Linked DNA regions of Homo sapiens: regions 1 and 2 are each linked to region 3. Evidence: fine-mapped expression QTL. A gene starts in region 3. Each other region holds a variant in brackets. All regions are shown on one strand. Distances are from middle to middle.

What was found.
Region 1: its variant is fine-mapped to the expression of GLYR1 in whole blood (TOPMed, PIP above 0.99). The same link has a PIP of 0.9 or more in blood mononuclear cells.
Region 2: its variant is fine-mapped to the expression of GLYR1 in whole blood (INTERVAL, PIP above 0.99).

Annotation. Positions count from the first base shown.
Region 1 is chr16:4,920,361-4,928,534 of GRCh38, forward strand. All of the region lies in intron 1 of PPL (periplakin), which reads right to left. LOC105371064 (a long non-coding RNA gene) reads left to right here. Exons shown (of 4, transcript XR_933028.3): 3 at 2,813-2,985; 4 at 5,316-5,568. Among named protein-coding and RNA genes, the nearest start is that of PPL, 13 kb to the right of the region's middle. RefSeq lists an enhancer at 7,963-8,174. The variant C/A (reference allele first, on the strand shown) is at 3,944.
Region 2 is chr16:4,800,615-4,808,788 of GRCh38, forward strand. ROGDI (rogdi atypical leucine zipper) reads right to left here and starts at 2,019. Exons shown (of 11, transcript NM_024589.3): 1 at 1,913-2,019; 2 at 1,768-1,839; 3 at 889-971; 4 at 653-707. The coding sequence starts at 1,957. GLYR1 (glyoxylate reductase 1 homolog) reads right to left here. Exons shown (of 16, transcript NM_032569.4): 16 at 2,589-4,696. The coding sequence ends at 4,622. RefSeq lists enhancers at 1,527-2,027, 4,074-4,368 and silencers at 1,533-1,592, 1,633-2,422, 2,315-2,526. The variant A/T (reference allele first, on the strand shown) is at 4,358.
Region 3 is chr16:4,842,827-4,851,000 of GRCh38, forward strand. It overlaps GLYR1 (glyoxylate reductase 1 homolog), which reads right to left and starts at 4,462. Exons shown (of 16, transcript NM_032569.4): 1 at 4,402-4,462; 2 at 3,348-3,384; 3 at 2,248-2,327. The coding sequence starts at 4,439. UBN1 (ubinuclein 1) reads left to right here and starts at 4,655. Exons shown (of 18, transcript NM_001079514.3): 1 at 4,655-5,384. RefSeq lists enhancers at 3,906-3,965, 4,266-4,325, 4,621-5,463 and silencers at 4,516-5,235, 5,246-5,335.

The DNA of each region.
Region 1 (8,174 bases), 78 kb after region 3:
AAGAAAGAAAGGACACCTCGGTCAAATTTCAAAGACACCTTTGTGGTTCAAGGACTGAACTGGAGGTTCAGAGCAGCGTCCCTGAAACAGACTTGAGATCATTTATACTCTTTTTAAAATTTTGAAACAGTCTTGCTCTGTTGTCCAGGCTGCAGTGCAGTGGCAAAATCTTGGCTCACTGCAACCTCCGTCTCTGGATTCAAGTGATTCTACTGCCTCAGCCTCCCGAGTAGCTGGGATTACAGGCGCACGCCACCATGCCTGGCTAATTTTTGTATTTTTAGTAGAGACAGGGTTTCGCCATGTTAGCCGGGGTGGTCTTGAACTCCTGATCAGGTGATCTGCCTGCTTCGGCCTCCCAAAGTGCTGGAATTACAGGTGTCAACCACCATACTCGGCCTCAACTAATTTTTTAATTTTTTTGTAGACATGGAGTCTCTCTCTGTTGCCCAGGCTGGTCTTAAACTCCTGAGCTCAAGGGATGCTCCTGACTTGGCCTCCTAAAGTACAGGGATTACAGGCATGAGCCCACTGTGCCTGGCTCATTTACATTGTTTATACAATTCGGGCCTTGCTGGCTGTTTCACCAGTGGGCCTGAATGAGGACCCAGAACTTGGTTGGCAGCAGAAACAGCCCCCTCAGCCTTGTTGACGCTGTGGGTCAGGGGCTGCCTGCTAGATGGGTTTTGCAAGCCTCTACGAGTCACCTCGAGTCGACTGAGGCTGTTTTTCCCTAGCTTTTTCCTTCTGGGCTGGGGATGCCAGAGTCTGGGACAATCCTGAGCAGTCTCACAGAGCCCCATTTTCTTGGCCTGGTCTGCATATGAGGCTCTTGATGCAAGCAAGGAAAAATGGAACCAGCAGGTCAGGAGGCTGCCCGGTTCCTCCTCGGAGTTCCAGGGCTGTGTTTGAGGGTACTCCCAGGGACCAGACAAGGGCTTCCTGGGTCTGAGCCCGCAGGCTTGAGCCTGAACAGCCATCTTCTTGTGTCCCAGGACATACTCAGAGCAGAGGAACCACTAGGGAGGGGGCCTGGGGGCCTCAGATGGCATCAGGTCTCCTGGCTCTGTCGCCAGGAGTCAGAGCCTCAGTAGACACAGCCCGACCTGCTTTATTGATTGATTGAGACTGAGTCTCACTCTGTCACCCAGGCTGGAGTGCAGTGGCATGATCTTGGCTCACTGCAACCTCTGCCTCCTGGGTTCAAGCAATTCTCGTGCCTCAGCCTCCCGAGCAGCTGGAATTACAGACATGCACCACCACGCCCGGCTAATGTTTGTATTTTTAGTAGAGATGGGGTTTCACCGTGTTGGCCAGGCTGGTCTCGAACTCCTGGCCTCAAGTGATCTGCCCGCCTCGGCCTCCCAAAATGCTGGGATTACAGGTGTGTACCACTGTGCCTGGCCCCAGCCTGCATTAGAGGTGGCAACTCGAGGCTGAGGACCCAGTGGCTCAGTAAGCCCAGCTGCAAAGTGGAGAGCTGGGACTCGAACCTAGGACTGTGTGCTGTCCTGGCCGCCAGGACAGCACACAGTCCTCAGAGGGCCAGCAGGGATGCCCGTGAGAGGAGCTGGGACAGAGGTAGCACCCTGGCCTTGACACACCACCGATGCTCCACGTGGGCAGAGAAAGATAACACAGGTGTCTCGGGGGACCCTCGCTCTCCACCTCCTGGGTCTCTCTTCCTGCTTTAATTTTGTGCGGGTGCCACTGGCACTTTCTTTCAGCTGGAAGGGCAGTGTGGCCCAGTGGTTAAGCACCCAGACCAAAGCCAGACAGCCCGGGGTCAAATCCTGCCTCTGCTCTTAATAAACTGTAAATTACTTAGCCTCTCTGAGCCTCAGTTTCCCCAGCTGTAAAATGAGAGTCATCACAGTATGCATGCCACAGGGCTGTGGTGGGGGTGACTGAGAGAACAGATATGGGGTGCTGCCTCTGAGGAGCCCGGCTCTGCCTTGACCTGGGTCCACCATCCAGGGATTTAGGCTCCTTTTAAGGAGCTGATAAAAGCCAGAAGCCAGCTGGGCGTGGTGGCTCATGCCTGTAATCCCAGCACTTTGGGAGGCTGAGGTGGGCAGATCACCTGAGGTCAGGAGTTCCAGACCAGCCTGGCCAACATAGTGAAACCCTGTCTCTACTAAAAATACAAAAATTAGCCGGGAATGGTGGTGGGCACCTATAATCCTAGCTACTGGAGAGACTGAGACAGGAGAATCGCTTGAGCCTGGGAGGCGGAGGTTGTAGTGAGCCGAGACTGTGCCACTGCACTCCAGCCTGGGTGACAGAGCAAGACTCCATCTCAAAACAAAACAAAACAAAAAAACCCTAGAAACAAACAAAAAGCCAGAAGCCAAGGCCTGAAGTTAGAATCCTCCAGCACCTGGGAGATGAAAGCAGACCCCCGGCCGTCCACACTGTTCACGCTGATCCTGGTGCAAGCCCAGACGTGCTTTGCTTCTGCCCTGTGAATGTTGCCTTGCCGGGGCACGTGGAATTCACAACTAACCTCAGAATTTGGAACCATCTCCTCCAACATCTGCGAGGAGAGGCTGGTGCCCATATATGGGTAATGAGGTGTCGGGAGGACAGGAGATCCTGCGTCCCAGATGCCCACTCCCTGGGCCTAGCTGGGGGACAAACGCACAGCCCGCTTCAGCTGTCTTGGGTTTGGGCTAAGGATCAGAGTCAGTAGGTTTGGGGATTTGAAGGGTACAGGGTGTTCCCACTGCTCTGAGAACGTTCTTCCGTCCGCATAAGGGAAACTGCAGAAGGGGAGGGTGGGGAGGACCTGTCTACCCGGTTATGCCAACAGATCCCTGAGACCTGTCCCTGCTTCTCCCTCCACTGGTTCTACCTGGGAACGCGTCTCCTGCGCATCCTCCTCCATCTGCCCCTCTGGCCTCACCTTGATCAAAGTCACCACTTCTTACCTGGCCCAATGCAACAGCCACCCACTCTCTTTTCTGAGAGCATTTGGGAGCACAGGTAAGTTTTAGTTTGGATGATGGGATGATCTGGTTGCATCATACAAAGACCTAAGAGTTGGGGAGATATGCTTCCCGGCCTCCTGCCCCCAGGAGAGACGTGGACCCTCCAAGGACACCATGAATGGCAACCTTCCAGCCATCAGCGACCTGGAAGGGGGCTCCCTGGGTGGGGGTGGCTTCAAGAGCCACCCTTGATGTCTTCAGCTGTACCTGTTCAAGTCACATGGCACCAACTGGCCCATTCTTTCTACCCTGCCTGCAGGGGAGGAAACTGAGGCAGCCTGGCCAGGGCAGGGAACGTAGCCTGTGTTGTGGCTCTAACCCAGGTGTGGGCTCGGGCAGATTCCTTAGTCTCTCTGTGCCTCAGTTTCCTCATCTCTGAGACAGGGATAGGAATTGATCCCACTGCAGAGGGTTGAGATAATTCAAGGAGATAACCCTTATAAATGAAAGCGCTTTGGGTGTGGCCGCACCATGATTAGGATAACTGGGTTTCATCCTCTTCCTCCGTGTCACTGGTGGGGGCCTTGCCAGGGCAGGGCTCTTTGTCTGTTGTTCACTGCCATGTCCGTAGCGCCCATCAGACTGAATGAACTATGCTGGCTTTTGGAATAACAGCATGTATTACTCCACCTGTCTCAGCCTTAATTTCTTTCAACATAAATGGGGTTATCATGCCTGCTTGTCACGGAACAAGCAGAAAGACACTCAACAGCTGGAAAACATTCCCACAGGAGTTCAGGTATTAAGTTGCTTTGTATGCAAGGCCAGCACTGTTCAACAGAAACTGAACCTGAGCCACACAGAATTTACATTTTTCTAGTAGCCACGTGAAAAGAGTAAGAAGAAATGAGCGAATTTTTTTCTATTTTATTTAACCTAATATATCCAAAATATGATCAATTTGACAGGTGGTCAACAGAACATTATTAACGGATATTTTACATTCTCTTTTT[C/A]ACACTAAGTCTTCAAACCCTGGCACACAGACATACGTGCACAGCCCATGTCACGGGGCCAGTAATTACTGAATAGGACTGCGAGATTCTAGGTGATTCTGGGGCACCCGGACCTGCTTTGCTCTAAGCCCGCAGTGACCACAGTCTCTCAGTTCTGCTGTAGGAAAGCTGATGGGCGCTCAGAGCATCTTCCAGTCTCACTCGGTGCCTGGTACCCAGGGACACCTAATAAATGCTCATTCTCTTTGAACCCCGTGACTCCTCCTGCCCACACTCACTGATTAGATGTCTGCCCCAGGACAGGGTCTCCTCTGTGGGTCCCTCCCTGGCTGCCTGACTCCAAAACAACCTGGGGCTCCCCACTGTGCCCACTGGAGCCTGGTGCCTGGGTGTGGAGGACCCTGGCACGAAGACCGCAGCAAGACACCCTTCCCCAGGTCCCCAGAGCCCCTGCAACCCTGTCCATAGGCCATGGGGCTGTGCTGGAGGCACCTGGCCTGCTCACAGCCATCCCCTTCTCCAGGCTGCGAGAGCAGCCACCCCGGTAACAGATCATACTTTAGCAACATCGGAGGGGCCACGTTCCTGCCATCACCTCCACCCCAGCTGTCCCTGTCGCCCAGAACTGCTGTGTCCCCTGCTGGCTCACAGCCCAGCCTGCACTCTCCTCCCATGTGTGGACACAGGTCCCTGCAGGCTCAGCACTCCCTGCCTGGCCAGGGCCACTGGCCTTTGATCACATCTGCAGTTCCTTCCTCTGGGGGTTAATTCTGTCTCAGTGGGTGTGTATTGGGGTTGCATTGCTGCTGGAATGTCTGGAACGCACAGGAGGGTACACCCCTCCCTGGAACCAGCCTCACCTGTCCCAGAGCCCAGAGAAGGGGCTGGGCCTCCTGCCACCACGGTCATCCTCTTCTGGCGTCCTGCCTGCCTGGAGGGCCAGCTTGGGGGAGGTGCACCTCCGGTGCCGAGTAGCCCTCTGCCCCTACCTTCTTTAAACACTGCCTGGCTCCTGAAACATCTGCCCTGGCTCTGACACAAAGGCAACCACCGTGGACACTCAGGAAATAACTGATGAATAGTAACAACACTGAGGGCACCTACTGGGTGCCCAGCGACCGCTCAGTCCTTTTGTGCATCACCCATTGACGTCTCATAGCCCTAGGAAGTAGCCACCCTTAGTGTTACTGGGGCTCTTAATCCTACCTATTAGGCTATTAAATTTTTGGACAAAAAGAACTTACTCACCTTTTTGGGGGCCCTTCTATAACCTTAATTCCACACCTTGCGTAGGGCTGGGCTCAATAAATAGGTGTTGAACTGAGCAGATGTTTTAATGCAATTCGGTAACTCTTATGTCTCTGTGTTCTAGGTGAAGATAACTGAGGCTCACAGAAGTTAAGAAACTGGTCCGAGTTTACACAGCTGGGAAGTGGTGGTGCCAAGATTCGAACCCATGAAGACGGGCTTCAAAAAGCCACCTTCTCAGTACAAAGGGGACATCAGTATCAATCCACACCCACCCCTTACAGACAAAGGGACAAGAGACATCGGAGAGACAGGATGATGGGACCAGGCATTCACCACCCAGGGAAGCAGAGTGATTTACAGTTTGTTGTCATTTTCATCAGTACAATTAATCCCAGTGGTTGGTTGGGTAAGGATTAGTGATGGTAAACGGAGACTGAGTCATTCTCCTAAGTTGTCCCCACAAGGGACTCCCAGCCTGTCCCTCCAAACAGACCTTTCAGGCGGAAGCAACTGCCATTGAGTGAGCACCTTCCTGGCCCACACCCTACCCTAGCACCGGAAGCAGGTTTCATCTCTGATCCTTATAACAACTAGTTGAGGTACGTGCTATCATAGCTCCATTGCAGATGAGGAAACTGAGCCTCAGGAAGACCACTTGCTCAGGGTCAATAGGTTAGTAAGAGGTCTATGCTTGTAACTGCTGCAGCCCCAACTGGGCACTTTCTAGATATTCAGTAATTGCCAAATAAATTTTCGACCCCACCCCACCAACTCTTTGTCATCTCTCTGCCCCTTACAGGCCCTGGCAACAGGCCCTTCACCATTAACAAGCCCCCAGAGATATGAATTGTCCACATGCTATAAAATACCTGCTCAATTTCACACCTATTTATGGAGCCCCAAGCTTATGTAAGGCCTGGAATTAAGGACAACAGAAGGCCCTCTCCCAAAAGATGAGTAAATCCCAACTATTCAAAAGCTTGTAAGCTAGTAGGTAGGTTAAGGAAAAACACCCCAATGGGTATAATTACAAAGATTTGGCTTGGCGCGGTGACTCATGCCTGTAATCCCAGCACTTTGGGAGGCCGAGGCGGGCAGATCACGAGGTCAGGAGATTGAGACCATCCTGGCTAACATGGTGAAACCCCATCTCTACGATAAATACAAAAACAAAAATAGCCGGGCGTGGTGGCAGGCGTCTGTAGTCCCAGCTACTTGGGAGGCTGAGGCGGGAGAATGGCGTGAACCTGGGAGGCAGAACTTGCAGTGAGCTGAGATTGTGCCACTGCACTCCAGCCTGGGCAACAGAGCAAGACTCTGTCTCAAAAAAAAAAAAAACAAAAAAAAACCAAAAACAAAGATTTTAGATCACTTACACCAGGGTATTTTCATCCACTGTGTTCCATTTAGGCCTTATAATCTAACTTTAATGATGAAAATATACTCAATCCAGTAAAAACCAGGAAAAGAGCAAAATGGAAACAAAGGGAAAGCATGATAAATAGGGCACTATGGTGGAGTAGGTTCAAACACATTAGTCATTACAATAAATGTAAATGAGTTAATTTTGCCTATTAAAAGATAAAAGACTCTCCGGTGAGATTACAAAACACACACCTTCCCCAAGCTATATGCCATTTTATAAGACACACACACTTGAAACTAAATGATACAGGAAGGTTGAGAATAAAGAATGGAGAGTGACATACCAGGCAACTGATACTGAAGAGAGAAAGCACTGTCCATATATCTCAAAGACAAGAGGGAGCGAGGCAATCCATGTAACTATGTGGTTCCCAACAGCTGCACATCAAAAGAATGATGTCTGGACCCATGTCCATGGAGATTTTGACTTAACTGGTCTTGGAAAGGGCTCTGACATGCTGTTCAAAACTCCTCAGGTGATTCTAATGTACAGCCAGGGATGAGAACAAGGAACTGAACCACAGCAAGGTTTAAAAGAAGCAAGATGCCGAAGAATCCTAGATCTCTATAGGAAGGAAGCCCTGTGAGAAAGCAGTACACAGAATGTGCCCAATGAATACCAGATTGATTGGTCAATTGACTGATTCTCTCACTACTAGAAACTCCTGTGCTAATTAGACAGTAAATGTCCTCACACCCAGCTATTAATCCTGTGGAAATATATCCTAAGATGAGAAGGTTGCTGGTGTAGTAATTCCAGGTCTGTTTTTAAGGCCTAATCTGTTTCTGCCCAGGGAAGGCCGCCCTGCCTCCAGGCCTCTGATGGGGCCTAGGGTTCTGTGTCAGGTGAGTGCTTTTGGGCTCCTTTTACAAACATACAGAAGTTCAAGCTGCTTCAGGTAACACCAAGGCAGGTCTTGAAGACAGGGCAACACAGCAAGACCCTATTTCTACCAAAAATAAATAAATAAATAAAATTAGCTGGGCATGGTTGTGCATGCCTCTAGTCCTGGCTGCTCAGGAGGCTGAGGTGGGAGGATTCATAGCTCACTGCAGCTTTGAATTCCTAGACTCGGGGGATAAACAGGGCTCAAGCCAACTTTGGTGCCCCAAGGCATCAGGATGTCACTCTGGGTTCAGGACCACTGGAGAAAGAGCACCAGCCTCCTTTTTCATTTTTTGAGACAGAGTCTTGCTCTGTTATTCAGGCTGAAGTGCATTGCTGCACTTCACTCACTGCAGCCTTCAACTCTTGGGCTCAAACACAAAATATATTTTGTATTTTTAGTAGGGACAGGGTTTCACCATGTTGGCCAGGCTGGTCTCCAACACCTGACCTTAGGCCTCCCAGAGTGTTGGGATTACAGGCATGGGCCACTGTGCCCGGCCATCTCAGCAGTTCTTACCCAGACACTTTGAGAGGGCTGGCAGGGTGTCCTGGCCGCCCCGCCCATCCTTTCCTAGGCAGAGGGTTTTTGTCATGCTTTGTAAGATAAAACACACCAGAGCTGCTGGCTGAGCCTGCAAGGCCGCAGGGCTGTGGGAGAAATAGAAC
Region 2 (8,174 bases), 42 kb before region 3:
GGGCACCTCCTGCCACAGCCACTCTGAGCCCTTAAGCCCAGGGCAGAAATGGGGTGTGTGGTGGTTCAGGCCTTGGCCGCTGTATAGGGCAGAGGGTCTCCCAATGCCTTGGCCGTTTGGGGGTTGAACAGGGAGGTCAGGAAACAGGAAACCAGGCCCAAGAAGAGCCACAAAGAAGTGAAATGGAAAGAGGTGAAGAAAGGGGAAGGGGAAGAGGAAAGGCAGCCTCTGTGAGGCTCTGTGCGAACGGGGTGCATCTAGTGTCTACAAAGGGCAACAGATGGAGCCCAGGAGGGGGGCCTCCCCCCACGCCTTGGTGCCTGGCACAGAGTCGGGTGCAGACTGGAGTTCAGGCATTGGCTGATTCAACTGTGATGTGTGGCCAGCCTAATCCACCAATGCCCATGTTTCACTGGTCCGGACGCCAGGCCAGGCCGTGTGCAAAGAACCCCTCTCCTGCACCTCTTACTGAATCTGCACACCGATCCCGGGAGAAGGTGTGAGGGTTGCTGTCATTTTCCAAAGGAGAAAACTGAGGCCAGAGAGATCAAGGGTCCCGCCCAGAGTCGCAGGGCTTGTACAGAGAGAAAGTGGGAGCTCCCATGCTCTTCCCCATTGGCAGGATGGGAGGGGACAGGGCCGGGGGACTCACCGCCTGGCTGAGGGCATCCCCCTGCAGAGTCAGCACACCCTTCACCTGGTCTGTGCTGTAACATGTGGCGTCAGAGCGGTGCCTGTGGTCACCCCCCCACCACCCAGCCCTCCCTCCCGGCGGGCTGCCCCTCCTGTCCCATCGCACAACCAGCTGGTCTGCAGGACAGGGCTATGGCCATGCCTCCTACCCCCCAAGGTACCCATTTCCCCGGTTTCCGCCTAGCCCAGGCTCACCCACAGCTGCCTAGGATGAAGTTCTCTTGCTTGGCGGGCCCCTCAGTGCCGGAGCCCGGCAGAGTGAAGCGCAGAGAGGCCTCCTGTGGAACAGAGGGAAGGAGGGGAGCTGGTAGCGCCCACTCAGGCCCGGCCCAGTGCTCCTTCCAGAAGCCCCCCTCCCTCCAAGTCAGCGGGGGGAAGGAACAACGTGGCCTGGCCTCACCTGGGTTCAGCTGGGGTGGGAAGACCCTGCCCAAGCCCCCAGGGCACCTAACCGTGAGCCCGATCTCTGCTTATACCACATTCCCTGAACACCTCCTGTGTGCCCGCCTCGGGGAATACAAAACAGACAGGGGCAGCCTCCCAGCTTGGTTGAGGGGGAAAGGGGCAAGGGGCAGAGTCAGGGAACAAGGCAGTAGTTATGGTAACCCGCGGTCCTGGGCCACAGCAAGCACTACGCCGGTTACTTCTGTGAGCTGCCTGGCTCATTTATCTACACCCCAGCCTCGCGAAGCGGGTACTGTTATCTCCCTTTTGCCAATGAGAAAAGGGAGGCCCAGGGAGGTTCAGTGACTTGGCTGAAGTCACACTGCCAGGCAGAGGCAGAATTCTTCGGCTCCCAGATTGGATGCCGCTGCTCCCAAGGCGGCCTTCCCCGACCCGAGGCCGGGCGGGACTCAGGCCCTTGCTAGCACCCTCGTCGGGACCCGCCCCTGCCCGCACACAGGTACTTATATAATGAGGTCGGCTCGAGTTCGCGGAGGCGGGGCCCTGCCTGAAAGCCGCGGCAGCCGCACACTGTAGGCGCTCAGGACGCAGCCGCGCGGCCCCAGGTGGAGCCAGGGAAATGAGGAGGGAGGGCCGCCACGCCCGGCGGGGCAGGGCGCGGGTCGTTACCTTGAGGATGTCCTGCAGCTGCTTCAACACAGCGTGCACCTCGTCGTGCAGCAGCCAGCGGAACTCCTCCTCCTGCGGGACAGACCCGGCGGTCGCGCCCGGCCCCGCCGCCCCGCCGGCCCGCCCGCTGGCCCGCGCGCCTTACCAGCACCGCCCGCTCCGCCGCCGTCGCTGCCATCACGGTGGCCATGGCCGCAGGCCGCCGCCGAGCGCCCTCCCCACCGGCCGCTGCTCCTGTCCACCAATCTTTCTGTCCTCGGTCCTCCGGTCCTCCCGTCCGCCCCCGGCGTCTGGCTCCGCCCCCACCCGATTGGCGGAGCGGGTACCACCCCGCCCCCAGGCCGGCTCCGTGCTCGCGATTGGCTGGCGCCTGTCGGTCCGCCTCGGCCCCCGAAACCTGCGGGAGCCCTGGAACCAGACTGGCGGCTGCGGGAGTGAGGCTCGCTCCGCCTGGCCAGGGACGCGGCCGGCGGCTGCACGAGTCAGGCTTGCTCCGGCTGGCCAGGGACGCGGCCGGCACCAGCCTGGGGCGCCCGCTTGGGGGCGGAGCTCCCGGGGCGCCCCCAGGATATGATAGGGCGCTCTGCTCCACTCGCGCTCACTCATTGGCCGGCAGGACAGTCTGTCCCCGCTCCTCCTCCCTATTGGCCCGCTTGGCTCCATTGGTCGTGGTTCCAACCCTGCCGCGGACCTCGCCGCCACTCCCAAGTCCGTCTCACCCCGGACGCGGAGGTCCCGAAAACCCACCCCGGCCCCGCCGCTGCCTTCTCCTCCCACCCATCTCGCCGAGGACGAGGGAAGCAGGACTCCTGCGGCACAGCTGTGTTACCAAGAAGTGTTTTATTTTTCTTGCAGTAGCTTTGTTAATTGCACAAAATCATGTTTTGTTTTTGCCATTTAAACATTATCACACAATCCTATTCTGAAAGACAAATGTTCATTAAAAACAAAGCAAAAATAAAAATTCACAACCTTAATTACCTAGATTTGTCATTTAAAGGTTTAAAGAAAAAAGGGAGGGGCTTTCTTACAAGCTTTTTCACAAGTGTCACATTTTCTCCTTAAAAGGGAAGGATTTCAAAAGAAAGGTGAAATAGCTTAAACAGAAATATTCATAAAAAGGAACTTTACAGAATTGTCAACAATATTAAGACAAAATTGACTAACCGGTTTCATTACCGCATCTTCCCCCGCCCCCACCCCCAGTGTGTTCCGCCAGGACTAGAACAGGCTTTGTGTTCAGACAGAAATGCTTCAAAATCCCAGTGAAATGAACTGTGCTAAAAACCCGACAGGCATCTTCCCTGCCCTCCCCCCACTCGTCTTCTGCAATCCTCTAACCCAGTTTCTAATCTCTGAAAGGGGCCAAAGCTGTGAGGGGGGAAGGACCCCGCCCTAGTGTGGCCACCCTATATATAATTACATATTGCATCGTAAATGCTGGCCTTCCTTCTGCAAATTATGATTTTGGAAAATCCAACCCATGCAGAGGGATAAAAAACTGACATCCCTTGGGTAACTTTTTTTTTTGCAACATTCCAAGCCCCCCCCGGTCCCCTATCCAAGGACAAATGTAGGGCCTCTAGGATGTCCCAGACCCACCTCGGAGGGCCAGTCAGTTCAGGTAGGTCAGGCCCAGTTCTCTTCCCTCCCGACAGACCCCGGGCCCGGGAAGCACCGAAGACCATGATGCTGGCTGGAGTGAAGACACTCGTTTCCGTATCAAGAGCTGAGCCTAAGAAATGCTCATCGTTGGTCAGGCTGGGTCTGGGCCAAAGGGACAGACAGAAAGAAATACTGTCTCCACGGGAGGAAGAGGGAGAGGAGGGAGGATGGAGAGCGGTGGGCATGCAGGGGACTTGGCAGGGCAGGGTGGAGAAGGTGGGACCACTGGGAGGGGACCGAGGTAAGAGTGGCTCTTCAGAGCCAGGTGAAGAGTCTGTGGCCTAACGGAAACAGAAAGGAGCGCCCCCAACCCCCACTCCTCTTGGCTCATCACTAGTGGCCCTGAGGACTCCCTCCCAAGGGATGGAATGCAAATCCAAATACTAAAACAGCCTAGGGAGGAGCGAGCGCCCGCTGTGGCAGTGGCATCTGGGGCATGGCTTCGAGGCGGTGAGGGCCGGGCCTCCATGCTCACCTGCAGGCCGGCTGCTTGCTGCACTCCCTGGAAAGCCAGGGCCCCATCTTCTCGGGACTCTGCCAGTCTCTTTTCAGTTCACAAAGGCGTCTATGGAGCGCTGGGTGCACACTGGACGCTTAGACGTGAACATCTTTCTCAGCTCATCACCTGAGGTTGGAGGGCCCCAAGGGCCCCTCTGTCTGGAGTCTGTACTGGCTCATCTGGGCCCAAGGCCTCTCCTTGTAGGGAATCCAGTGGGGGATGGGGACATGACTACAGCCTCTTCGCTCTGGGGGAAGCTGTGGGAAGGCTTCCAACTCTCGTTGCTGATTCTAGTTCCTTGACTGGAAGGGGTTTGAGATAAGACAAGCTCGGAAGAAAAAAAGCCAGGCAGCAGTTTCTGGGCAGCTTCTATCCTGGGGCGAGAGCCTGTGTGTGTGTGTGTGTGTGTGTGTGTGTGTGTGTGTG[A/T]ACACACAGCCACCTCGTCCGGGGGGCCAGTGCCCAGCTCAAGAGCTTTCCCACACGCCAATCCTGCTGACACTTGTCCCCTCCCCACCGGCCTCAGGGGAAGGGTGCTGCTGTGTGCTGTGCTGATGGCAAGTCTCAAAGTCTGTATAAAAGGAAATGGAGATAGGTGGGCTGGTCCAGAATGAACTCCCAGGCCCCCGACCCCATGTGAGGAAGAGGGGGTCAGAGGGGGGATTGGAGGGGTGAGGGCGGGGTGTCGACAGCTTAGTGTATGTAGGCTCGGTACACGGCGGACATATCGTTGTCAGACTGGTCCAGCGCCTTGGCTCTTTTGTACACCTGGAAAAAAAAGAGATGGCTCAGTCTCTGGCCCCAGAGCTGCCTTCAAGACCTAGACCTGATTCCTGGAGGCAGTGGTGGATGTGGCCAGCAGGCAGTGCTGGAGCCCAGGCTGTCCGGTTAGGAATCCTGTGTTGACCTTGCATGAAGCACCTCCGTTTCTCTGGACCTCAGCCACTGTGCTTCTTGCTCTGGGAGAAGGAACAGTACCCGGGGGATCTTGTGAGAATGAAATACACTATGGGATATAAAACATTCAGCATTGGCCGGGCACTGCGGCTCATGCCTGTAAGGCCGAGGTGGGTGGATCACCTGAAGTCAGGAGTTCGAGACCAGCCAGGCCAAAAAGGTGAAACCTCATCTCTACTAAAAATACAAAAATTAGGGCCAGGCGCAGTGGCTCATGCCTGTAATCCCAGCACTTTAGGAGGCCAAGGTGGGTGAATCACGAGGTCAGGAGATCAAGACCAGCCTGGTGACCGTCGTGAAACCCCTTCTTTAAAAAAAAAAAATACAAAAAATTAGCCGGGCATGGTGGCAGGTGCCTGTAATCCCAGCTACTCAGGAGGTTGAGGCAGGAGAATAGCTTGAACCTGGGAGGCGGAGGTTGCAGTGAGCTGAGATCACACCACTGCACTCCAGTCTGGGTGACAGAGCGAGACTCTGTCTCAAAAACAAAAAAAGAGCAAAACTGTCTCAAATAAATAAATAAATGAATAAAAAATAAAACAAGGGCAGATGAAACACCCAGGACACCTATACCTCAGAGTGAGAGTTCTCACACCTGTGGTGCTTCTGCCCCCAGGGGACATCTGGTAATATCTGGAGACATTTTCTGTCACCTGAGGAGGAGCTATGTCACTGGCGTCTGGTGGGTGGGCTACCCAACATCCTGCAGTGCTTGGATAGCCCCCCCACACAGAATGGCAGCAGTGCCGAGGTTGAGAAACCCTGCCTTAAAGGATGAGGGAGAGGAAGGGGGAAAGAAATGCTTCTGTGTGGTTGCAAAGTTTTTACATTTAATGGGAAATGGTACAAGATTAACTGTCTTTTTTTTTTTTCTTGAGACAGGGTCTTGCTCTGTTGCCCAGGCTGGAGTGCAGTGGTAGGATCATGGCTCATTGCAGCCTCGAACTCCTGGGCTCAAGCAATCCTCCTGCCTCACCTGCCTCAGCCTCCCAAGTAGCTAGGAATAGGGTGCTCGCCACCACGCCCAGCTAGTTTTTTATTTTTTTTTGTACAGATGGGGGTCTTGCTATGTTGCCCAGGCTGGTCTCAAACTCCTGGGCTTGCTTAAGCCTCGACCCTGCCTCGACCCTGCCTCGACCTCCCAAAGTGCTAGGATTACAAGGATCACAAGTATAAGCCACTGTGCCTGGCAAGATTAACTCTATCTTAAGGATTTATACCGCAATCTGTAGAGTAACCACTAAAAAAAGAATGCAGAGGCAAAGTAAAAAAGAAAATAGATAAATGAAACTGGAATTCTTTTTTCTTTTTTTTTTTTTTGAGATGGAGTCTTGCTCTGTCGCCCAGACTGGAGTGCAGTGGTGTGATCTCGGCTCACTGCCAGCTCTGCTCTGCCTCCCGGGTTCACGCCATTCTCCTGCTTCAGCCTCCCGAGTAGCTGGGACTACAGGCGCCCGCCACCACGCCTGGCTAATTTTTTGTATTTTTAGTAGAGACAGGGTTTCACCCTGTTAGCCAGGATGGTCTTGATCTCCTGACCTCGTGATCCACCCGCCTCGGCCTCCCAAAGTGCTGGGATTACAGGCGTGAGCCACTGCGCCTGGCCCCTTTTTTTTTTTTTTTTTTTTTTGAGACGGAGTCTTGGTCTGTCGCCCAGGCTGGAGTGCAATGGCACGATCTCGGCTCACTGCAACCTCCGCCTCCTGGGTTCAAGTGATTCTCCTGTCCCAGCCTCCGGAGTAGCTGGCATTAATAGTGCCCGCCACTATGCCCGGCTAATTTTTGGTATTTTTAGTAGAGACTGGGCTTCACTATATTGGCCAGGCTGATCTCGAACTCCTGACCTCAGGTGATCTGCCCGCCTCAGCCTCCCAAAGTGTTGAGATTATAGGTGTCAGCCACCGTGCCCAGCTGAAACTGGAATTCTAAAAAGAAAGTAAGAAAGGAGGAACAAACAAAAGACAAAGACAACGAACAGAAATCAAATGATAAAATGGCAGCCCCAAATTGAACCACATATCAATACAACTACTAAAGGTCAATGCACCAGTTAACCTTCAGAACCTAACCTCTGAACTCCTAACAGTATAGAGTCTAAGCTCATACCATCCAAACGACCTGAAAGCAGCGAGCTGCATTGAGAAATTAACCTAAAAACTCTGCTTCCAAGCCAATGAATCCTGTAGTCAGGGTGGAGGCAACTTGGAAGTCACTTCAAAGAGAAGCTTTCCCAGCCCAAGCCACATGAAACCCTTGGGAAATAACTATAGTCAGAAATGAGCTTTCATCAAAAAAGACTTATAAAATACACAACGAATTCTACTATCCAGAGAGAATCCACTGGTAGAATGAACAGGGGGGACTTGAAATAGTAATGTAATCTGAAAGAGTCATGAAATAAGTACTCTGAAATGTTGAAACAGACAAGAGACAGAAGACAGAATTTAGGAACAAGGCTGCATGCGGTGGCTCATGCCTGTAATCCCAGCACTTTGGGAGGCCAAGGCAGGCGGATTACTTGAGGCCAGGAGTTCGAGTCCAGCCTGGTCAAAATGGTAAAACCCTGTCTCTACTACAAATACAAAAATTAGCCAAGTGTGGCGGTGCATGCCTGCGGTTCCAGCTACTTGGGAGGCTGAGGCAGGAGAATCACTTTAACCCAAGAGGTGGGGGCTGCAGTGAACTGAGATCATGTCACTGCACTCCAGCCTGGGCAACAGAGTGAGACTCTGTCTCAAAAAAAAAAAAAAAAAAAAATACAATTCAGGAACAGAGAATTATACTATGAAAAGCCAGGTGTCAAAAGAACAGTACTGGCTGGGTGCCATGGCTCACGCCTGTAATCCCAGCACTTAGGTAGGCTGAGGTGGGTGGATCACCTGAGGTCAGGAGTTTGAGACCAACCTGGCCAACATGGTGAAACCGTATCTCTACTAAAAATACAAAAAGTTAGCCAGGAGTACTGGCAGGCACCTGTAATCCCAGCTACTGTGGAGGCTGAGGCAGGAGAATCACTTGAACCCAGGAGGCAGAGGTTGCAGTGAGCCGAGATTACACCATTGCACTCCAGCTTGGGCAACAAGGGTGAAACTCGGTCTCTAAAATAAAATAAAATAAAATAAAATAACATAAAATAAAAGTGTATCAGCTGATAGTACTTTAAAAATACAGCTGCTGTTTCACAAAGTGTCATTTTTATTATAATAATATGGTAAAGACAAATGTTTTTCAGTTGTTTTTTTTTTAGATTCAAATTCTATGAAGATGAGCTAAGAAAGCGGAACTTCTA
Region 3 (8,174 bases):
GTAGCTGGGATTATAGGTGTGCACCACCACACCCGACTAATTTTTGTATTTTTAGTAGAGACAGGGTTTCACCATGTTGGCCAGGCTGTTCTCAAATTCCTGGCGTTAAGCAATCTGCCTGCCCCGGCCTCCCAAAGTGCTGGGGTTACAGGCATGAGCCACCATGCCCGACCATCATTGTGCACATCATCTTATCTGAAATGTTTACAACTTGTCACTTGACTGAGCATCTGGAAGGTGGGAACTATAATACTTGCTTTCTTATAAATTCCCTCAGTGTCAAGCAATTCAGAAAGTGGACACATAACACTGATGTTATGCATGAGGACAATCTTTCCTGTTTTTCTTTTTCTTTTCTGAGACATAGTCTCAGTCTGTCACCCATGCTGGAGTGCAGGGTCTCGAACAATCTCTGCCTCCTGGGTTCAGGCAATTCTCGAGCCTCAGCCTCCCAAGTAGCTGGGATTACAGGTAGACGCCAACACTCCTGGCTAATTTTTGTATTTTTTGTAGAGACGGGGTTTTGCCATGTTGGCCAGGATGGTCTCGAACTCATGACCTCCAGTGATCCACCCACCTTGGCCTCCCAAAGTACTGGGATTGCAGGCCTGAGGCACCATGCCCGGCCAAATCTTCTTTTTAAATCCATGGAGTTCTAAGAACATTCCCTCTTCCAGAAGCTCTGGCTCCACAGCTCCAGGCCAGCGATCTCCTTGAAATACTGCCACCACAGGCTGCTAAGCTGGCTTGTGATAGAGAAATGGGGCTGGGTCTATCTGTAAACATGAAACCAGGAAGAGCATCTGACATATAAACTCCTGGATGAGTGAAGAATACTGTTTATAATATATCGCTTTCTAAGTAGAAATACTTTAACCGTCAGAATTAGATTTACCAGAGAAGCCACAGACATTTTTTTCAAATCTAAGGCTGTATTTTCCTATAAGAATAATAAATAGAAATACAACTACTTAAAGAAATCAAACCGGCTGGGCATGGTGGCTCTTGCCTGTAATCCCAGCACTTTGGGAGGCTGAGGGGGTTGGGGGGGGGAGGGGCAGATGACTTGAGGTCAGGAGTTTGAGACCAGCCTGGCCAACATGGTGAAACCCCGTCTCTACTAAAAAATATAAAACAATTAGCCGGGTGTGGTGGTGTGCGCCTGTAGTCCCAGCTACTCGGGAGGCTCAGGCACCAGAATCACTTGTACCCGAGAGGTGGAGGTTGCAGTGAGCTGAGATCATGCCACTGCACTCCAGCCTGGGTGACAGAGTGAAACTCCATCTCAAAAAAAAAAAAAAAAAAAAATCAAACCATCTAGCTAGACCCAGGTAAGCCACTTGACATAGTGATAAAAAGCTAAACAAATCACTAGCAACTCAAGTTAATACAGGTTCTTCACGTTCTTCCCGTCACTGTAACATGTTATATGGTCAGAGTCTCAGATTAATGGTCCTGGTTTCCCCAACTTAGGACAGATCTGGTAAAAAGACTTACTATAACAATGTCAAAGCAAATCACTTAGTTTTACACATGAGAACATGATTGAACAATTACTTTTATTAACATAAATAAAAGTTTCCACTGTATACCCCAAGCATGAACCATAATGATATATGGCATTAAAAGAGAACTGAACATGGCTTTTATAAAAATAATTGCCAGCTGGGCGCAGTGGCTCACGCCTATAATCCAGCACTTTGGGAGGCCAAGGCAGGTGGATTGCTTGAGTCCAGGAGTTCAAGAACATCCTGGGCAACATGGTAAAACCCCCTCTACAAAAAATTAGCTGGGCATGGTGGTGCACACCTGTGGTCCCAGCTACTCGGGAGGCTGAGGTGAGAGAACCGCTTGAGTCAGTGAGGCAGAGGTTGCGGTGAACTGAGACTGCCTCTGCACTCCAGGCTGGGTGACAGACTAAGTCTCTGTCTCAAAAACAAACAAAAAGGAACTGCCTTTGGAGTTGGGTAAAGAAACATGTGAGAAACTGTTTCAATGTGATTGTTATAGTTAGAAGGTAAATGAACCTAGTTCTTGCCTGACTTAGTTATAGACCTAGGACAGTTGTCTAGGGCAATTTCTGCAAGAAATTGCACCTTTATTTAGGTATGAAGGCAGAATGAGATGCCAGTATTACACATTATAAGAAGACTGAACTAAGGATCCTTAGAATATTTTCAAAGCAGCTCAGACTCCAGGTAACACAGAAAGAAAGGCGAAGGGAGACTCCTGGTGAGTACTACTCACTGATCTTCTGTTCCAAAAAATTTCACAAAGAAGCATTTCTTTCCGCGAGGTTTCTTCAAGTCCTTTGGTGGATTAACAATCTGGAGGATAAAAGGGGGGAAAAAGGTTGGCTGGCAACACAGCAGCCCACTTTCTAGTGGCTCCACATTGCTCTACAGTTCTACGTTGCTAAGAAAAAAGTAAATTAAAAGGACTTACTTACAAATAAATTTATTTATATACAAAACAGAACCCAAGGCCTAGTACTTGTCTAAATCTCCCATTTTTCTATTGAGGTGTATGGAAATGTGTAGATATTCTAGAAGTTCCCAATATTTAACATGTAGCACAGTGCTCAGTAGACACAATATCCCTTTTACTGCAGTGGCCCTGTTTTACAAGCAGTTAAAACTAAGATCAACAGCATCCCCTGCCCCCCACCACCCCACCCCTGCTCCAATGTGACCCCATTATTACTGAAAAAATGCAGACGACACTCTTTGAAATACTTCCTGTGCAGGAAGGGTTGACACAGGACATAGTGAAAACAAAGGACAACCGAGGCACAGAAAACACCATATTGCAAAGAGACCATCTAAAGACACCTCCCGGGCTCCAAGCAAGAATATAAAAACACAACATTTGGAAAGCAATGATGGATCACCTCATGCAAAATCTGGAATGCCAACTTCTGCAAAGAGGCACTGGAGTAGCACATATGGTAACATGGAAAGAAGATTTAAACTTAGTTGGGACAAAAATACTTTGGCTTTTCACTAACCTACATTTAGACTTTCTTCCTGGATAATTTATATTTTCTTCTCCTTTTGTTACATTTAAGCATAAAGCTAAATTCAGACTAGAATTATTTCCGGGGTTAAAAAAGAAACTTCATAAACCTCCTCTAAATCCAGAAATAAGGGTTTAGAGAAGATTTAATGATCTGGTGTATACTGCATTGCCTTTTAAAAAATAACCGATACTAGGGGAAAAAAAATTCTAAGTGCCATCTGAATGAGCCCAATTTAACTCAATACTAGAAACTGAGAGGAATGCATCTTACATTCTCCACCTCTTCAAACCCAACTTCAGATCTCTTCCTTTAGTAGCAAGACACTCACCTTTCCTGGCCAAGGAGGATATCGGCCGAGTTTCCCCCTAGAGAAAACACAAAGAGTCAACACTTGCCCTGCAAAAGCCAGTCCATCTCCTTCAACCCACTCAATACGCAATTTATTTTCCTAAATCTCTGCTGGCATCCTCAAATGCCGAAACAAAAGCTTTCATAGCTGGGCCCAACACCCTCAGAAGTAAAATGCAAAATTGTATACTTATGTGCACAACGCATATCCATTCTTCTGTTGACAAGGAATACAGAACAACACAACTGTCAAAAGTCACTTGTCTAGAGCTTCTTAATGACGGGGGTGGGAGGACAGCTTCCTCTGTAAACACAGACTTTCCCTCCCTAAGTCTGGTTTAATTCAACAGGAGACCTGCCTGGCTTTGACAAATGCTAATGGAAGCCTTCCTCTGGGTGGAGAAACAAGCTACGCAGCTCGAGGGAGGCGGCGACAAAGTCTTGGTTCGGGCGGTTGTCTGGGACACAGAAGCAGACCGCGGGAGGCACCCAAGCGTGCACTGGTCACTGCCAAGCCATCGGTTGTAAAGGAGAAGTCCCCCCGCCGTTTCTTCGCGGGGCAACGCCAGCAGTCCGGTTTAGACAACCCCGGCTGAGCCGGCCGCACAGGTCGGCTGCATCGCAACCTGGGCTTTGACCGAATGGCACCGGCCAGATCTCGCAGGTCCGGTCCCCGGCGCTTCTGCTTTCTGGGAAGCCCCAACAAGACCCCGGGGACCGGTCGTCCGGGGAAGCCTCGCGGCACCGGCGGCTCCCTTCACGGGGGCCGCCAGTATCTGGGCCCCGAGTGCAGACCCCACCCGGCCGGCCTCGGGGATCAAAGCCGGTGCCCGACGTGGCCACCCTCGGCCTCGGTCCCCCGGGACTGGACTGCCCCTTCCGCCTGGCGCCGCTCGCAAGCGCCGGCACCTTCTCTTCCCCTCTCTCCGCGACCTGGAGCGCATAAAAAGGCAGCTCCAGGGCCGGCAGCGAACCCCGCGCCCAGGCGGGTAGCTCCCCGGCGCGTCTCGGTTGGCCCGGCCGCTCGGACTCACCACACCAAGTCGCCGAGCCGCAGACTCACAGCCGCCATCTTACCACCCAACCACCGCCGACGCACGGGCCGCCGGGAACAGCAAGTCGCCCCGGCGCCGCCCATTGGAGTGGGCCCGACCACGTGACGGGGGCCGGCTGTCACTGGCCACGCCGCTACTCTGACGTCACCGCGCCCGCCGGGGATCATTGGTCGACCGAGGGGCACGTGACGCGAGCGCCGCGGTCTCCGCGCGCCGGAGCGCAGAGACTCCCGGCTCCTTCCCCCTCCCTTCGGCTCGTGACAACGAAGCGCCCGCGGTCTGAGGCGGCGGCGGCGGCGACGGTGCGACCGGCTGAGCGCGAGAGGGAGCCGGCCTCGCGGCTCGCCCCGCCCCCGGGTCTTGGACTCCGCGCCCCTCCCCTCTCGGCGCTTCCGTTACGCCCGTTGGTCCGGCGCGGGCCCCGGGGCCATTCCCGAGCCCGAGGCGCTGGTCGGCCCCGTCGCAGCGCCAGTGAGCTACCCTGACGGAGCTCGGCGCGGCCTGGAACTCAGCCTCCGCCGGGTCTGGGCTCCCGCGCCCGGCAACTCTGCTTGGCCGCAGGCCGGGAGGCCCCGGTGTCCGCGCCCGTCCGCTCCCGCCGCCCGTGTTCTTTGGAGCGCTCCTCCCGACGGCCGCTTTCGGAGGCGCCGTCTGAGCGCGGGGTCCCGCGCCGCAAGTTCTCCTGGGGCGACCGGAGGCTGCTCCCCCGACCCCCTGGTGTCCCCGGAGTGGCTGCGCGGACGTCGAGTTGGCATTTCTTCGCTTCCTCCTGGGCCGGCGCGCGGCGCGGCACACCAGGCTCCCCTGGGCTCGGGGACCCGGCCATGGGCCGAGGCGCGGGCCGCCCGCCCGCTGGGAGCCACGGCTTAGCAGCCGACCGCTAGCTGCGCCGCCGCCCGGGGACCGGCATGAGGACCGCCGCGGGGGGACGTCTGCGGCCCGCGTCGGCGCTGGGGACAAAGGTGCGTGTCGTTGTCGGGTCCGGGCTCTCTCGTTAGCCTTGCCCTAGTTTTGCACTTTTGAAAAAGTTGTGACAACAGGAAGACAGATGCCGGGCGTAGTTTGGACACTTTAAAACTGAACCATGAACTGGGAAGTGTTAACTGCAGTTGAGCGCAGCGTCGGCCCAAACTTCAGCAGACCAGGTAGAATCACAATTTTGCAAAAGATCCCAGTCCCGATCACAGACTCCACAGTGTTAAGGATTGACTTAGACTTGGTGTCGGGCTCTTGTTGAGTCACTGCCAGCTGGCAAAGGTGGCGAGTCGACACGCATTTCCCCAAGGCATTGTGGTGGTTAGAGATTTCGGTTGCAAGTCGGTGTTTAGCGTACTGGGTCGTCCCGCAGCCTGATTTTTCTTGGGAGATCAGTTTCCCTGAAGTACCAAGAATTAGCTGCACGGACTGTCATTTACTGCGTGTGTATTTTTAAGACAAAGTGATCTTTAAAGCGTATTTAAGATTCCAGGGAATAATTTGATAAAAATTTAACATAAGTTCCTGTTTAAAAATTCTGAATTTGTGAGGAATTGAATGAGATTTTAATAACTTAAATAAAAACATGAATCTTGGCCGGGCAGGGTGGTATAAGCCTGTAATCCCAGCATTTTGGGATGCCGAGGCGGGTGGACCACCTGAGATCAGGAGTTCGAGACCAGCCTGGCCAACACGGTCAAACCCAGTACTCTACTAAAAATACAAAATTAGCCGGGCGTGGTGGCGCATGCCTGTAGTCCCAGCTACTTGGGAGGCTGAGGCAGGAGAATCGCTTAACCCGGGAAGCGGAGGTTGCCGTGAGCCGAGATTATGTCACTGCACTCCAGCTAGGCGACAGAGCGAGCGAGACTCGTCCCCCCGCCAAAAAGAAAAAAGAAAAAAAAATCTCAAATGAACATTGCACCAAAACCTAGAGGCATTCCCCTTAACATCAGAAACATGGTACATTTCTACCACTATTAGATAATAAGAATATATTGCCTAAAACCTGAAAGTTCTAGCCAGTGCAGTAAGACAGGAAACAAAAATAAGAAATGCAATTTTTGGAAAAGGGAAGACAGAATTCTCATTTCCGTGGATGATAGGTCTGCCTATTTTGAAAACAAAAACAAAAACCAAAAAACCCATTAAAATAAGAATTCAGGAAGGGTACTCATTATAAGTTGGAATGCACAATTTAGTTTTTCTGTTTCATCAATAACCAGTTTGAAAATACAATGTTTAGAAGGAGATATATATATATATAGTAAGAAAAAATTAAAAATTGCTGAGGATAACCAAGGGACAAGGAAGGCTAGTATTTTCTCAGTAACACCAACTGAGGTTTTTAAAGGGGGATCTTTGTTTTTTTCTTTTTTTTGTTTGAGACGGAGTTTCACTCTTGTCGCCCAGGCTGGAGTGCAGTGGCAGGATCACGGCTCACTGCAGCCTGGACCTTCCCAGTCTAAAGCCATCCTCCCACCTCAGCCTCCTTAGTAGCCAAGACTACAGGGGTGTGCCACCATACCTGGCTAATTTAAAAAAAATTTTTTTGTGCAGATGAAGTCTCATCATGTTGTCCAGGCTGGTCTTAAACTCCTAGGCTCCAGCGATCATCCTGCCTTAGCCTCCCAAAGTGCTGGGTCCGGGAAGTTGAGGCTGCAGTGAGCTCTCATGGTGCCACTGCACTCCAGCCTGGGCAACAGGAGTGAGGCAACTGTCTCACAAAAAAAAAAAAAAAAACCACAAAAAAAGCTAAAATCTTTCCAAGGACTTAGGCAACTCTCGTAAGTCTAATAGATAAATGTAAGTTTTTTTTAAGCATTCAAACATGTTTGAACTTAATTATATTTTCTTAAGCATTTTGAATTATGATTGTAAGTCTAACGTACCATTGTTAAATATATTGGATTCTCTTAAATGTTTCAAATGGCTTAGTAACAGCAGAACATTATAATGATTATAAAACAACCCCAAATCTAAGTGGTAATAGAGTACAGATTTGACTCACTTTATCCTGTAGTCCTATTTTTTACCTTCTTGGGCCTGGAGAGTCACTTAAGCAACTGAAAGGAGCAGTTTTGCCATCTAGGATTGAAGCTGCAGTCTCTCAGACTTGGACTGAGATAAGGTTATGTGTTTACTGCCTGGACAGGGGGAGTAGGACCTGGTTGCCAATTCAAGGATGACCTTCCTGCATCCCATTGGTTAACTTGCTGATTCCCTTCTTATAGTGAGACTGTTCCGGTTCTATCAGTGGGGGAATCTGTAAGCCTTCAGCTGGGATTTATTTCCACAACCCAGCGCATCACAAATATCCTGAGGGCCTTGGAGATTTCTTTTAGGGAAATCTCCTTTAACATCTTAGTACGTGTTGGGAGATGGTCTTTTGCAGCGCCAGCCTGTTACACTGCTAATCGTTTTGCCGCCTGATTAGAATTATTTTAACTCTTCATTTGTAGATATTTTGTTCCCTTATGTGATGTTATAAGTTGATTTTGTGATCATAATTCGACAAATGAATATTGGATATATACAAATACGTCTACATGTATGTGGATATATACGATATATGCTAATTTTCCTGAATTAACTCACATTTGTGATTGATTTACAACCAAAATACAGTGAGTTTTTTTGAAACCTGCCAAAATAATACATAGGCTGGAATGGCAAAGTATTATTTATAAAGAAGGATAATAAACATGAGCTTTAACTTTGCAACATTAAAGTATGAAACTTTACAAAACAGTGCAATACTGATTAAAGAATCTCTA